Regions from separate parts of the Homo sapiens genome. Here region 2 is linked to region 1. A link means that fine-mapping ties the variant in region 1 to the expression of a gene that starts in the linked region. Tissue or cell type: uterus. Region 1 holds a variant in brackets; the other region holds the start of a gene. All regions are shown on one strand. Distances are from middle to middle.

Region 1 (8,264 bases):
GGAATATTATGCAGCCATTAAAGAAATAAAGTAATGATACATGCTATGTATTAGTGAGGATTCTCAAAAAAAAAGAACCAATAGGATATATGTATGAGTGTATGTATATATGTATACACACACACACACACACACACACACACACACACACACACACACAGAGAGATTTATCATAAAGAACTGGAGGCTGGGCGTGGTGGCTCATCCCTGTAATCCCAGCACTTTGGGAGGCCGAGGTGGGTGGATCACTTGAGGTCAGGAGTTTGACACCAGCCTGGCCAATATGGTGAAACCTCGTCTCTACAAAAAAAAATACAAAAATTAGCCAGGCATGGTGGCGGGCACCTGTAATCCCAGCTACTCAGAAGGCTGAGGCAGGAGAATCGCTTGAACCCGGAAGGCAGAGGTTGCAGTGAGCCAAGATTGTGCCACTGCACTCCAGCCTGGGCAACAGAGCCAGATCCTGTCTCAAGAAAAAAAAAAAAAAAAAGAATTGACTCATGCAATTATGGAGGCTGAGAAGTCCCAAGATCTTTGGTTGACAAGCTGGAGAACCAGGAAAGTCTATGGTATAGTTTCAGTCCTAATCCAAAGGCCTGAGAACCAGGAGAGTCAATGGTGTAAGGTCTATTCTGAGTCCAAGTCCAAAGGCAGAAGACCAATGTCTCACTGGAAGACATTCATATAGAGAGAGAACAAATCCTTTCTTACACAGCCTTTTTGTTCTATTCAAGCCTTTAATTGATTGCATGGGGCCCACCCACTCTGGGAAGGGCAACCTCCTTTCTCAGGCCATCAATTCAGATGTTAATTTCATCCAGAGACACCCTCACAGACACACCCAGAATAACGTTTAACCAAATACCTGGCACTCTATGGCCCAGTCAAATTGGCACATAAAATTGACCATTATATGCTATCACATGGATAAACCTCAGAAACATGCCATGAGAAAGACACCAGACACAAAAGGTCACATATTACATGATTCTATTTATATAAAATATCCAGGATAGGCAAATCCATAGAAACAGTGAGCAGATGAGTGGTTGCCAGGGACTGGTGGGGAGTGGGGAATGGAGAGCAACTGCTTGATGAGGGTGGAGTTTGCATTTGCGGTGGTGAAAATGTTCTGGACCTGGATAGTGGTGATAGCTGCATAGCACTGTGAGTGTACTTAATGCCACTGAATTGTACACTTTATATTGGTTAAAACGGTAAGTTTTATGTTACACATATTTTACCACAATAAAAACAGACAAATGGAAACCTATTACAGTTATCTTTGAAGACCTTGATTTTTCTCGTAAAACAGGATGTGCCTCTCCCTTGTTTCTGATTCTCAGTTCCTACCTGAGAACTGGATCTCTCAGTGGAGAAACCGTTCAGCCCCTCGGTCCCTCGGCTGCAGGGCTGCTGCTTTTTCAGAGCACTCCTCTGCTTCCTTTCCCTTCTGGCTTGGAGCTCTGTCCTGCAGGGAGAACCTGCAGTGGACGCCACTCATCCCCACTTCCTGCCCACTCGCAGCTCCTGGCTGCTCTTCCTTCATCTCTCATGTGGCTCTGCCAATACCAGTCTAAACTCTAAACTCTCACCTTTCACTTGGCATTGTAGTGGCTGGATTTCCATGGCCTGGTGCTGGGCCTCACCTGGGCTTGCCCCAACTCAGGGAGCTGGTCAGGCTGACCTTTGTCAACACGTTCATGTCCACTTCCCCACTCACCTTCAGTCTTTTCCTCCTGTAGATGCTTTCTTACTATCCTACCCTACTCCTGACTTATCTGTCCTGCCATTCTGACTCCCTGGACCTGTCAAACTGTCCACAGAGTGACAATTAGTCCTCTGCAGAAGTAGAATGAAGGCTACTCATTCAGGACTTCCTTGCCCTTCTCCAGTTGGGTCAGTCTTCCCAGAAAACATGTGGGCATTACCCATCCAACCTCTAATTAATCTTCCTAACATGTGCTTAGATTATGTTTACTCTCCTTCTCGAAAAACTTTACTGGCAATTGTAGTGACATTTTCTATGCTTTACTGCTGCTCAGCATCTTCTGAAAGCCTTTTTACATTTAGGGAAATGTGCAATTAGGAGTCCTGCCTTCCCAAGGCAGATGCTAGAAACTCTTACCCAGCATCCCTTGCAGCTGGAGCACAGGCCCAGGACCCTTGTTCTGCCCATAGACTGCTCTCGGTAGACTTAGGTTCAGAGGAGAGCACCACCAGGAAGCCACATGGAGTGGGATCCATTTTCTGGAAGTAGAGATGAGGTCTTGCGTCTAGTGCCTGGTGGTAGTAAATGTGGGCCTCCATGGAATTAGCACAGAGGGTGGATTAACTGCTTGGTTTTCAAGTTTTGTTCTTTGCCCTCCCAGAGTTCCTGTAAATTACCCAGTATCTCAATATTTTTACTCAAATTACCCCCAATTTTTCAGCTTTGTTGAGGTATAATTGACAAATAACAATAGTATATATTCTAGATATACAACATGATGTTTTGATATATGTATACATTGTGACATGATTACTGCAATCAGGTTAGTTAACCCATCTCTCACATCACATAATTACCTTTTTTTGGTGATCAGATTACTTAAGATCTACTCTCTTAGCAAATTGCAAGTACACAGTACATTATTATTAACTATAGTCACTGTGCTGTACATTGGGTCTGCAGAATTTATTCTTTGTACAAGTACACGTCTGTAATGTCTTTTAATTAATTTATTTTCTATTTAAACTCCCTGGAATGGTTGTTTGTAACTAAGAAGTCTCAAAGTGCATAGTCTTTTTTTTTTTTGTCTTCGGATTAAGAGCAAATGTCTTCCCTTGCAACTGAGGCTTTGCCTGTTGTGATGTCAGCTGTTTCTCCAGGCTTCACTCTTTTCATGTCTCTATGATACAGCCAGAGGGTGTAGCTCCATCTCTCCTGATCAAAAGGGGCTCCCCATGTCTATGCCGTGGTTCCTGCTGTCTACTCCACTTGGAACACACTCCCAGCTACACCTTTGTCCCTAATATTCTATTCATCCAGTGTTTCTTTAGAGAAACACTCTAAATTTTTTTTAAGACATATCATACTTAAGCTCCCCCACCATAAAAATGTGTCCACTTTTTCTAGAGGGCAGAGGCTCTGTCTTAGTCATCCCTCAGAATTCAGCTGTGTCTGACCAAGGAACTCACCAACTGGCTTAATAAAATAACACTCTGTGATCCCTCAAGGTGGGCAATTGTGAAAGGATCCCTGTAAAGGCCTAACACTTGTTCCTCCAACGTCACTTTCTTCTAGGGAATGTCTTCGATTGCTGCTTCCACTGCTGTCATGACCTTAGGTGGCATAAAAGTCCTTACCTTTCTACCCTAAGGATGGGCCAATTCTCTTCTTTTAGTATCTTTCAGAACAGCTGTGCTTAAGTTAAAGCTTTGTGCTAATAGCATAGAATGATTCATGAAACTCTTGGGTGAATAAATGGTTGTTCTAATCACCTGCACCTGCCCATCCTTGGGG[A/C]GCCCCTCCAGATCTGCCTCCCTATCCAGCTTCAAATGGCAAGAGTCATTTTTCATCCCCCCTACCAGGTAGGACATTCAAGCCTTGCTAAACTTGTGGGAGCTTGAGCTCAAGAGAGCCATATCAGAGAAAGGAAGACATTCTTTCCTTACCCCGGTCTAAGTCCTGTCTTCTAATCCCTCACTTCTTCCAAGTTCCACTGTTTCTCAGGACCACCAACACCAGAAGTGTCCATTACTCTAAATGTGACTCCATCTTCTGAACACAAGGATGTGGCTTTATTTTATTCCAAGACTCAAATGGGACAGATCCATTACAGTACAACTCAATTCAATATCTATGTAAGAGACACATATACACACAGCAGAGATATATAGGCAGTGCAGAGTAGATGTATGGAGAATTGAATTAACCCAAACATATCCTTCAATGTTTGTAGTTATAGGAATTTCAACTTTATACACAAATATTGTACCTTTAAAATATTTTTATAAATTAACCTAATTTTTCCCATCCCACTGGGCTTGTAGCTGGGGAAGGGCTACTTAACCTAAGCCATTCTTGGACTTTCTCTGCCCCCTCCAAGCCCAGAATTTAGATCACAGTTCCATGGTCATTCACATTCCCCAGGCATCTGATGTGGGGAGATGTCTCCCTTGTTACCAGGTCATTGGTTTACAGTTTTCTGCTGTCTACAGGGCTGTATTAGAACTACTGCCTCTCTGTATCATTTATTTATTTATTTATTTATTTATTTATTTATTTATTTATTTTTTTAGAGATAGGGTCTTTCTATGTTGTCCAGACTGGCAGTGGCTATTCACAGATGTGATCCCACTGCTGATCAGCATGGAAGTTTTGTCCTGCTCTGTTTCTGACCCGGGCTGGATCACCCCTCCATAGGCATCCTGCTGGTCCTCTGCTCCTGGGAGGTCACCATATTGATGTTGCATTTAGTGCAGACATCCCATTGGCATAGTGCACTACAGCACAGATCTCCTGGGCTCAAGCAATCCTCCTGCCCCACCTCTGGAGTAGCTTAGTCTACAGGTGCACAGCACTGTGGCTGGCTCTGCAGATTTTATTTCATGCTTGAGGCACAAAAATCTTTTACAAGGCTATCACAACTAGCTAGATTCAGAGATTGCCAGTGGGTGGAATGAAGCCCAAGATGTGTTTTTTTCACCAGCATAGTATACATTTTTTAAACAAAATTATATACTTAGGACATAAAACCCCAGGTAGACTTAATCCTTACCACTCCCGCTTGTCTCTTTACCAGCTTTACTCATTTATTTGTTCATAATACCTTCTGATTCTTTGAAGGCATTTGAACATCTGAGCTTGCAACTATTCCTCTTTGGAATCATACACCCTCTTTCTTTTCTGCCTTGGCCTGGGGTTGGCTGTATGGTCTTGGGAGGATCCTTTCTTATTCCCAATGCCTTGATTCAAATGCTCAAGTTACTCTATGAATTGCCTCTTTCTTTAACCTCCTTCGTGAACCCTCTTAGGTCTTCAAAAGATAGAGGACTTTGGAAAACAAAGTCCTAGAGATATTACTGATTAATCCCTGATTTCTTCCCTGCCACATCCCTGAAAAAATAAGGCACTTTTGGAAGTTGTGGGAGAAGACGTGGTAGAAAAAAAGAGAAGAAAACATAAATTTTGTTGCAAAATATTAGCTAACCACATCATCTAAAACAGAGAAAAACTAAAATGTGAGGAATTTTGAACACAGAAGGAAAGAAGAAAACATTATAAGTTCAAAGGGACATGGTTGGGAACCTCTGGAGTCTTACAGTATCTGTCAAATTACATGATGCAGGCAACAGTGCTTTTCATCTGTGTCCCCCATCCCAAAGCCCCTGTCCTTTCCTGTGAGCGCTTAATACCACTGAACCCCCTTCTCCTGCCAAAACAGTCCACATACTACCCTCTTGGCAGCTGTCACACACCTGGAGATAGGACACAACCTGCTCATTCTCTGAATAAGCTCCATACTTCATTGCCATGACTTTTCCCAAAGTCCCTGTCTGAAAAAAACAATGTCATTAGACATGTAAAAGGAAAAAAGAACCTTCTTCATCCTCCAGCTGGAAAGGAAGCAGGCTGCATCTAGGGGAGATGATGCAGCAGGGAAGGAGCCCTGTGCAAGGCGGGGCTCTCTTGTGCAGGGCGGCCTGGAGAGGATGACTGGGAGCCCCGTGAGACTTGTGTAGGGAATGTGGCAGGAGACAGGGGAGAAGTACAGAAACTGGGAAAAAGGATCAATGCTTTGGCCTGAAAAAAATCAATCTCTTGCTGATTGAGAGAATCAAGCGGTTTTGATCTCTCAATCCTACAGGGTACTTGTAGCAAATACAAAAGGAATAAGACACAATTCCTGTCCTCAGGGAGTTTAGTTTTTACTGGAGGAGGCCAGACACACACTCCACACCAGGCAATACCTGGATATGTTCAAGGAGTAGTGGCGTAATAAGTGGAAATTCAGAGGATGGGGAGAGAACTGGGGTCTAAGAAAGCTTTTTGGAGAAGGGGAGACTTGAGCCAAACCTTGAGGAATGGGTGGGATTTGGAATGCAGAAAGGGGAGGCCCTTAGGTGGAGGGGCCCTGTGGGCAAGGTGTGACAGTCAGGGGACAGTGAGTAGGGGGCCTGCCTGGCTGACACAAAGGAGTGAGTGGTAGAGAAAATGTTGGAAAGGAAGGAGAAATAGAAATGTGGTGAAAGCTTGACCAGTTGTGTGACTTTATATGATCTTTTGCCTTAGTGTCTTCATCCCTAAATGGCCATAATAAGCCTAGTCGTGGTTTTCATGAAGTTAAATGGGGTGCTTGATATGAAAGCTTTCTATTGTGTGGGGCTTCAAAAAAAGGTCAGTTCTTGCTTTCCCGACTGAGGCACTTGGACACTATCCTGTAGGCTATGTGGTGCCAGCAGGGTTCGTGAGCAGGAAAAGGAACTTCAAAAGCCTGGCAGAGAGAGAACGATGGAGGAGGATATGAGAGGGGCCGGTGGACAGCCAATCCAATCCTGCTGTGTTGGAGGCTGGCGAGCTCTAATGGGATATGCTGAGGTCCTGGGTGGGGTCTATTACCAGAATGGGAAGCCCTTCAGTCATCTTTCAGATCCTGGTTGAGGCCGTGAGATCGTGCTTGAAATCTTTTCCTAAAAGCTCCACAGAGCCAGCAGGCAGTAGGGGGCTGCCAACCCCCAGACCCTCAAGTGGGAGCGGACTCTGGGATAGAAAGTGAGGGACTCTACCCTCCCTTATAAATCATTATTGCCAGCCAGTCTTCAGTCTGGCTGAAATTTAGTGGGTATATTAAAAATGCATCCAGGCACAATAAAGCCTAGTTTGGGGTTTAAAATATAGCTTGTCAGATGAGTATTTAGTGGTGTGTTTTAATATGCATAAGTGCAAACCGGAATTTAATATGTAGGCTAAAGTACACATTAGCAATTTCGTAAGTGATCTCAAATTGCAGCGTACAGAAGCAACTTGATGGGAGGGTGGGTTGAGGGGGAAAAAGGGAAATAGAATACCGTTAAACTTTGGGATTATTTTTTTCTTTATTCCCCTAAGTAGGACTTTACATAATTCCCAGGTGAATTTGTTATGGAGTTGCCTTTTATTTATTTATTTCTTATTTGTTTTTGTTTTATTGAGCTAATGAATGCTAATTCGTAGAACATAAAATTAGCTTTTTTGCCATATGTAATTCATTACCATCCAGTACCATCACAGTGCTGTTCCATCATCACCTCTATCAATTTCCAACACATTTTCATCACCCCAAAAGGAAATCCTGTACCCATTATGGGGTCAATCCCCCCATTAAGCTGTCACTCCCTGTTTCCCCCTCGCTGCAGGCCCTTGCAACCACCAATCTGCTTTCTGCCTCTCTGGATCCACCTATTCTGGATCTCTCTCTCTTTCTCTCTCTTTTTGCTCTTGTTTTGTCCTATGGTTTGTATAAGTTTGTGTTTTTCTGGACTTAGGCAATGCCTGCTGCTTTGGAAGTATTCAGAAGTTGCAATGCTGGGAACCAAGATGTCAGGTTATTGAAAGGAGAGGAACTACCAGATAGAACCTGGCTTTGTAGAGCAAATAAAGGTAAGGCTAGGAGGCTTGGTCCTACCAAGATTTTCCTAAGAGGGCTAGTGACTTTTTGGTATTATAGGCTTGGCAGTCTGATGAAGCCCTTGGACTACTTAGAATAATGTTTTGAAGAAACTAAAGCATACAGATTACCAAGGAAACCAGTTATGTTAAGATGCAGCTTTAAAATATTAAAGTATCTGGTGATCAAGTAATATATATGCTTCTTTATTAACACATTGAATAACAAGATCTAGCTTGGGTCTACTAACACTGTAATTTTAAAGCAGTGAAAGGTGTAAATTATGTTTTGAGATCTGCAACACTGTAACATGATATGAAAATATCTGATTTCTACTGGTAGCAAATTCATGGGAATTGCTAATAATACTGTGGTTTGTTACCAACATTCATAAATAAGCAACCATGAATGGAAGTTAGTACAAACAAAGATATAATTTTTGCCCATCTGAGTTTATACACAGACTTATTAAGAACTCCTGCTCTGGGATCAATTGTTTCTAATCCATTTTCAGCCATAGACCCCTTTGAGAATCTGATCAAAGCTGCCTGTAGACCATCTCACTGGGAAAATAAACTCATCAGCAGATATAAAAATTATATCTTATCTGTTGAACCCTGACACCCACCCATG
Region 2 (8,004 bases), 940 kb before region 1:
AATATAGATGATTGCTTGCTATCTTTATAGATAATTATCCTTAAACCCCCAAATAATACCTAGCATGACACTTTGCAGCTTAATATGTGCTTTCATGTACATTGTCTCATTTGGTCCTCACAATCAAGAGATAGGTATGATGGCCATAACAGTAAAGGCAGGTCTTCTGGCTTGAACCCAGTGCTTTTCCTACTGTCACACTTCCCTCTGTAATTTTTTTTTTTACCCGATTTTTTTCAGCAGCCCAAAGAAGCAATCTGCTTGGGTCTTTTTCCATTTTTTTTTCTTGCAATCGATACCACTCTTCATTTTTGTCATCTTGCTCCTCATCTTCATCAGAATTGCCTACCCAAAGACTTTGAGTACCAGTAGGAATAAGGTGTCCATGTGTTTCCAACAATTCAAGTTGGTTAAAGTGTTCAGAAAAATCCAAGGAATTCTCTTGGTCTGGTATTCCATCATCATTTCCTTTTTCTTTTTCCATTTTTTACTACTATTCTAAATAAAAAGCATTTCAAATGCCAGGATATAAATCTTTCTAGAGATGAATTATGACTGCTTTGTTCATCAAGATCTGAAAACACAAATACAAAAGTTATTAGTAAAACAATAATTCAGGCTTTATCAACTGCATAGATAAGTCTTGCAAACATATACAATTAAACCCTGTCTAAACTCTTGTTTTTCTCATGATATCCCTTACATACACTAAATACTGATGCTGACAGAAAACAACAAACTATGATCTAATAGTGGTCTAATGCTTCTTACTTTTGTTGTTTTCTTCTAAGTCAATTATATTATTATAACTATTATTTTTAATCTACTGGTTTAGGTATGATGGTGTTATGCTAACAGTGATGAATGCTTAAAGGTTTTGAAGTATAACTAATACAATGAAGACAGGTGCATTCAAGATTTTTATAAACTAGACACACAGATAATATAGAGCAGAAATAAAAACTTCTAATTCCTAAAAATACTATTTCGAAGAATCAGGGATTCTTGAAGATGGAATAGCCCCCAAAAGGACATCTGTTCCAATCTGTCATCGGTACATATATCTTTATCACAGCATCTACACTAATTATCCTATTTCTACTTTGATAATTTCAGGCCTAGGAAAATTCACTGCTTTAAAAAGTAGTCCTGTTTATTGATAGGCAACTATAGTTCTTAGTTGGGTCCTTGTTTTCAACTGAATTTTGGCTGTCATTCATTCCTTCATTCAACTAATATGAATAGAATGTCTGGTATGTGCCAACTTCTGGGTACTGGGATTCAATAATGAGCAAGATCCATGTCTTCACCTCAGGAAGCTTACTCTAGTGTAGGTGACTGGCAAAGACATCATGTGTCTGGCAAAGACAACATGATAAGTACTACTACAAGACCTTGTCTAGAAACCATGAGTATACAGGAGGTTCATAATTCCCCTAGTCCTAAGGGATTAAAGAAGGCTTCCTGAAGGAACTGATGTTTATTCTGCTAAGCTGCCATATTAATTTTTAAACCAATATCAGCTTAAAGGGTTACACAACATATAAACCTTAATCAATTAAAGAAAAGGAGAATAACCAATAGATAATTTACAAATACGAATTCCCAGCCTCTCAACTCTATTTGTTGAAATATAATCAGTCTTTCAAGGCTCTTCTCTGATGTTATCTCTTTCATTCTTTCTTGATCCTCTCATTTAGATCGCTTTCTGCTTTCTACTTTTTTTGGTGCTACATTTCACCTCTAACTTTGTTCTTGTTTTAGCCCCTTAAAAGATTATAAGCTGAAAGATAAGGACCACATTTAACTTATATTTATCTCCTACTTGTCTATAGAAGGCATTAAGAAGTATGTGTAGCATTACATTTAATTAAAGTCTTGTCACTTGATTTTGCCTGGAATGGATTCTGAGAAGTTCCAGAGTTAGGCATAACCCCAAGATACTGATTTCTTGATACCTAATCTCACAAGTTTAACAGTATACAATCTTAATGTGGTATTAAACTTTATTACTAGTGGCAATAGCACTAAACTCAAGTTTAAATGTATTACTCATGTCCAGTAACTTTTCTGGTCCTGTTACTTTATTGTAAAATGTAAGAATTTTACTAAAGTATTCCTAAGGCCAATCCGGCTTTTCAGTCACCCAATCAGAGACACCCTTGGAATCAGAGATATCCAATCAGAATTGCTCTGTGTTTTATTAATTCTCCTGGAGCTTCCACTTTTTCTTTGATTCTCAAACTAATTCCTGAACCTTGCAACACAAAAATGACCATACATCAATTCATTAAACACTTAACAGATGCTAATAAATAAAAGTTCACTTGTAATTATATCAAATATAGTAACCTTATACCACAGATCTTACCCTCTCCCCCAACATGCTTTTCCTTTCAATAAAAACTCCCTTTATATAAATTTTGAGTTTACAGATCCAGATACAAAAAATTATGTACAAAATTTTACTGGTATATTTAGTTTAAAAAGCCAAGCCTAGGCGCATCTACCCGACTTACAGTTAAGAAACAAAACTGATGACTTGATGATGATATTCCTGATATTCCATCAGGAATGTCAGGGTATGTTTCCTAACTTAAAGGGCATATCCTATTTTGAGAGAGATCCGAACTATGTCAACTCCTTACAAACAACTCAGTGATAGGCGGGGCTATAAACCTTACTGGTGAAGGAGGTTCAGATAGATTAAAACAACTTGCCCTAGATCAAGGACCCTTCAATGGAACTGAAAGGGCAGACGTTCTAATTCAAAAGTTCTACATTATTTTTCGCTGCACTATACATCTTACTGCTCTCAGCACAAAGCAGTGCAGATGTGCTGAACTCAAGGACCTAGGGGCGACACCTGTAGAGGGTCTGGCGACTGGGAGGGAGGGAGAGGGGATCCAGCTCCGGCACTCTGCCACCAGCCGGGAGCTCACAGGCCCGTGAGCTCCGCCTGCGGCCTTCCAAACAGCCAAGAGCGGAGAAGCGGCTTCGGTCCTACCTGGGGACCACGAAGCGGCCTGACCTGCAGGGCTCGGCCTGTGTCCACAGGCTACCCACCCCCACGGGCTCAGGAGTTCTTAGATGGCGCCGGTCCATCAAAAAGCGAGGTCCGGGACAGGGAATAACAACCCACCTGACAGAAGGGAAAATCGCCGCCTTGCATCTCACTTCCGGGTTCGTCTCCTAGCCTGCTCAGGATTGGCTCCTGCGTGAGGGCGGGGCCTCGCCGCTACTTTCCCCGCCCCCTCACTGCGTGCGGTAGCCAATGAGAGCCGAACTGGACTTGAAGCATCTACGTTATCCATGAAGTGTCGCGAGAGAAACGGACGCCGTTCTCTCCCGCGGAATTCAGGTTTACGGCCCTGCGGGTTCTCAGAGGCAAGTTCAGACCGTGTTGTTTTCTTTTCACGGATCCTGCCCTTTCTTCCCGAAAAGAAGACAGCCTTGGGTCGCGATTGTGGGGCTTCGAAGAGTCCAGCAGTGGGGTAATTTAGGAATCGCATTCGTCTCCTGTTTCTGCAGGTTCCCAGGCGGAAGCCCAGAGTTAACTGGAACCTCGGGAAGAGCGGGCCGAGTGGGCAGGGGAGGGGTCCTGGCGGGCTCAGCGTTCTGATTCCGAGGTTCCCTGCGGTGAGGGCGTGTTGAGGCTTGGAATCCCGACGGAATCTGGAGCTCCAGATGTGGTGGGGGTTGTCTCGCGGTGGCAGCCACTCTTCCCCAAACCTGGCTATTTTCAGTCATCCTGCTGGTGCTTAAAGGTGTTCCTCCGCAGACCACGTGTTTGTTTATTTACACTCGCTTTAAACGCGGGCCCGTTCCCTTTTCCAAACTAGCCAGGTCCTTTAAAAAAAATCGTGGGGTTTGAATAGGAAATACAGGATTGCCTCTGTTCTCCAGAGTAACCTATGCGTGCAACTTAAAAATATCTGCACATCTAGAGTTGTTTGTGTGTTGAACCAGAACCGTATGTGACCCTTTCTGCCCATTTATTTAGCATACATTAATTTCCCATAAGAGCACGGGAAAGGAAAATAGGAGTTTAATCATCTTGGTGAAACTAGGAAACAGGATGTACACTGGAGATATATTATTTTCTATGCTCAGTTCATTAAAAAAAAGTATAGTGGGTGCTTAGATGAAAATGAGACTTCTAAATTTGCCAGTCTAATTAAGACGTCTGTACCTTGTGCAGCGTAAATCATGTTGGTTAAATACGTGCAGGCTTTTAAAAAATGTGTTTTATGATGTAATTTTGTTTTTAGAATTTCTAGAATTTGGAATCGAGTGCATTTTCTGACATTTGAGTACAGTACCCAGGGGTTCTTGGAGAAGAACCTGGTCCCAGAGGAGCTTGACTGACCATAAAAATGAGTACTGCAGATGCACTGTAAGCACCTGACTTCTGGAATCCCTTGTTATTTGGGGTTTCTAAAGCTCGTCAACTGTGATCACAGTAAAAGAAAACTTATTTAATAAGCAGTAAATAAGGAACCTGTTTATGAACAGAAATATTAGTCATCAAAAAGGGTATTTGGAATGTTTTAAATATTTATCTGTTTGTTAACTGGAAGCTAATATGCAGCTATAGATTGGAGTCTTGCAGTAATTTGATATATTGATATAGTATTGTTTATGTTCTTAGGCTTCATCTTAAATTATTGAAGTGATAAATATTCTTGAATTTTCCTGACAAATTCTTATTAGTCAATGCAGTTCTGTTTAAGATTTTTAGAGTAAATTCCTCTAGTATTAAATAAGCTGGAAATGAATTTGAATGGAATGGGAATAAATAAAAGGACTGTAAAAGTTATGTGCACTTTGGGAGGCCGAGGCTAGCGGGATCATCTGAGGTCAGGATTTGGAGACCAGCCTGACCAACATGGTGAAACCCCGTCTCTACTAAAAATACAAAATTAGCCAGGCGTGGTGGCGCATGCCTGTAATCCCAGCTACTCAGGAGGCTGAGGCAGGAGTATCATTTGAACCCGAGAGGCGGAGGTTGCAGTGAGCCGAGATCGTAAAAAAAAAAAGTTATGTGGGAAAGACTTTAGACTTGGAGTCTTTTACCCTAGTTTCAAGTCCTTGGACCCTACTAGCTGTGTGACCTTGGGCAAGTCAGCAGTTCTCTGAGCCTTGCCTCAATTTTGCCATTGGTATAATTGGAATAATTATACCTTTTTCAGATTAATTTTGAGGCTTAAATGAGAGAATTCATGAGAAAATACTTCATAAATTGCTACAGAAACATGTAGTATTATGATTTGAAAAGTATCTGACCTACCTTCTTGGATATATCAGTGAGAACTGTGTGCATATCATTTTTGAAGTTTTTGAAGAGAAATCGTTTGTGGAAATATCTTTTGTTTGTAAAGATTTGAATTTTGGAGATATATACAGAGATTTTTTAAAAATTCATTGTGGTTTATTGAAAATAGCCTGAGTTTTCATCATGGGTTTTAGTCCTGTTTCTGTCACTAGTTATGTGATAAAGCAGTTAATTTCTCTGGGTTTAGCCTTCTCATTTGTCAGAGATAATAATGCCTGACTCTTTATCTGTGAGGGTTGAGATGAGATCATAAAAATAAAAGTATTTCATACAATTAAATTTAGTGTAAGAGTATTAATAACTATTACATTGCTACTTCACATTAAAGTACCTTTGAATATTACCAAATTCAAATTGAAACAATTCTGTGTTGGCCAACTTTATTAATGAAATCTAACTCTGTAGAGAGTAGAGTCATGCAAGTGTCTTCAAGGCCCTGAATGTAAATTATTGCATATTAGTATAAAATTGACTCATAAACTTAGAGGAAGGCTTTTTAAATTAACTTCGATTTTCCTGGAAGAGTACGAAGTCAGATAAATAACAAGTTTATTTATCTGAGGAAAACAAGCAAACTTTTGGGCCTGGGTTACATGAGTTTGTAAAACTGGTTATAACAAGGTTATAAATTTTTGAAGCAGTTATAGAACCTTGTAAAGATTTATGTACATTTGTTCTGTATTGAACTAGTGGTTAGGAAAACTGTAATGTTAATGATAACGTTGAATACTTCAGATTTTCAGATGAACTCTAAGGCTAAAAAAAATGATTTTACTCTATAACTGTTATTATTTATTTTATAAGTTTGTCTCAATTTGTTTGAATATCCTTTAATGAATTATTAATATATTGAAATGTTTCTTCTTTCTTAATATAGTGATGATGAAAACACATTTAAAATATTAGTTGCAACAGATATTCATCTTGGATTTATGGAGAAAGATGCAGTCAGAGGAAATGATACGTTTGTAACACTCGATGAAATTTTAAGACTTGCCCAGGAAAATGAAGTGAGTGTGGTTTGTATTTGTGCACTATCTACCATATTCCCTTGGTTAACAAGTTATTTTTCCTTCTAAAGTTAGAGATTTGTTTTATAAGCTCAGGTGCTTACCTTGCCTGCTTGAATATCAATATACTGAAAGCTCAAAGCTGATTTTGTATGCTTTGTGTCTTAAATTCAAGTAGGAGCTACTTTTGTAAATAGTCTGTTAAAATTTACAAATGTTTTTGGGGTGTTTACTGAATGCAGGATCCTGTGGCAGTGTCTATTCGAAATGTAAGGTGACTGTCAAAGCTTCTGCTTTCAGATAACGTAGAAGAAAACTGGTGTGAAAGACAAATATCCACAATCCACAGATGCAAGGTTGTATGTGATAGGAGCCCTAAGAAAATTCTAAATAACATTTCCTTTGAGTTTAGAGGCAGAAAAAATCACGTTTAGATTATAGCAAGATGAGTTTAATGAAGAAGGTTGTGTTTAACTTGGGCTTTGGAGGAAGGGTAGACTTTTGGCCAGTGGGGAGCATAGAGAATGTACATCCATGTGAAGCAGGAGTGAGGAAACCCGTGAGACAGTATAAGGTATGTTAGGGGCCCTGTAGTCAATTTGGCTCACCAGCAGGTCATAGTTAGCAAGCATGCTGAGAGACTAGAAGGAAGGATTTGAGCTGCATTAATGAGGACTTCAAATATCAGATTGAGAAATTTGTATCCAGTTCAAGAGAAAGTCTTTTGGCAGCGGAGTATAATACCATGAATTGGAGACCAGTTAGAGGCTTTTTTTGAAGTATTGACCTTAGGGATGGAAAAGAGGAAATGAATGCAAGGGATACTGCAAAAAGAGGATTTGTGTACTTTGGTTAGTTGTAGCGGGGTGGGGATGAGGGCAAAGGGATGACAGTGACTCTGAAGTGTGTGGAGTTTGGGTGAATAGTTGTACCAAAAATAGAAATAGGTAGATAAGGAAGAGGTACTGCTTCATGTGGGAAGGTGACAAATTCTTTGTTTGATTTCGACAAACTTAGAGTTGGAGACTGCAATGGGACATTCAGGGAAAAATTTCAGCAGGCAGTTAACACGCCAGCCCAGGAGAGAGTTGGAGAATAAATGTAAAAATTGACTTGCAAATTAACACCGCCAGCCTTGACTTTTCTGGAGAGTTCTCTTAAGTTTATCTGCTAGGTCCTTAGTTCTTCCTCCCAAATATATATGGTTCCTCTCTACTACTCTTTTCACACTAATAAACTTAGTCCAAAACGATCACATTTCACATGGCCTGCAGGAGGTCCCCTTCCATCTTTCTGCTTCTATTCTTTTCTGCTACATCTACTCAGCATAGCAGCCAAAGTGAACTTTTAAAATAATAAATCAGATCATGGCACTCTGTTGCCTAAAATTTTCCAAGTGTCCTTCCATTGAATCTAGTATAAAATTCAAACTACAAGGTTCGACTTGATCTTGACCCCTGCCATGAAACTTCATCTCCTACTACTCTCTGCCTGATTTACAGTGCTACATCCACACCGGCATGTTCTACTCTGAGGCCCTTGCACATCTAGTTCTTTCTGCTTGGAGCACATTGATCTTGGTGGGGCCGACTTCTGAGAGTTCAAGTCTTACCTTTTTGGAGACGTCTTCCCTGATACTTCCAAGCACTGTTTTATCAC

What was found. PIP is the estimated chance that this variant, and not a neighbour inherited with it, causes the effect.
Region 2: it holds the start of MRE11, and the variant in region 1 is fine-mapped to the expression of MRE11 in uterus (GTEx, PIP 0.94).

Annotation. Positions count from the first base shown.
Region 1 is chr11:93,553,225-93,561,488 of GRCh38, reverse strand. It overlaps a transcript of SMCO4 not described here and the pseudogene RN7SL223P. Among named protein-coding and RNA genes, the nearest start is that of SMCO4, 14 kb to the right of the region's middle. The variant A/C (reference allele first, on the strand shown) is at 3,506.
Region 2 is chr11:94,489,174-94,497,177 of GRCh38, reverse strand. It overlaps MRE11 (MRE11 double strand break repair nuclease), which reads left to right and starts at 3,334. Exons shown (of 20, transcript NM_005591.4): 1 at 3,334-3,387; 2 at 4,272-4,396; 3 at 6,213-6,345. The coding sequence starts at 4,377. It overlaps ANKRD49 (ankyrin repeat domain 49), which reads right to left and starts at 3,194. Exons shown (of 3, transcript NM_017704.3): 1 at 3,143-3,194; 2 at 227-574. The coding sequence starts at 484. RefSeq lists an enhancer at 2,895-2,984.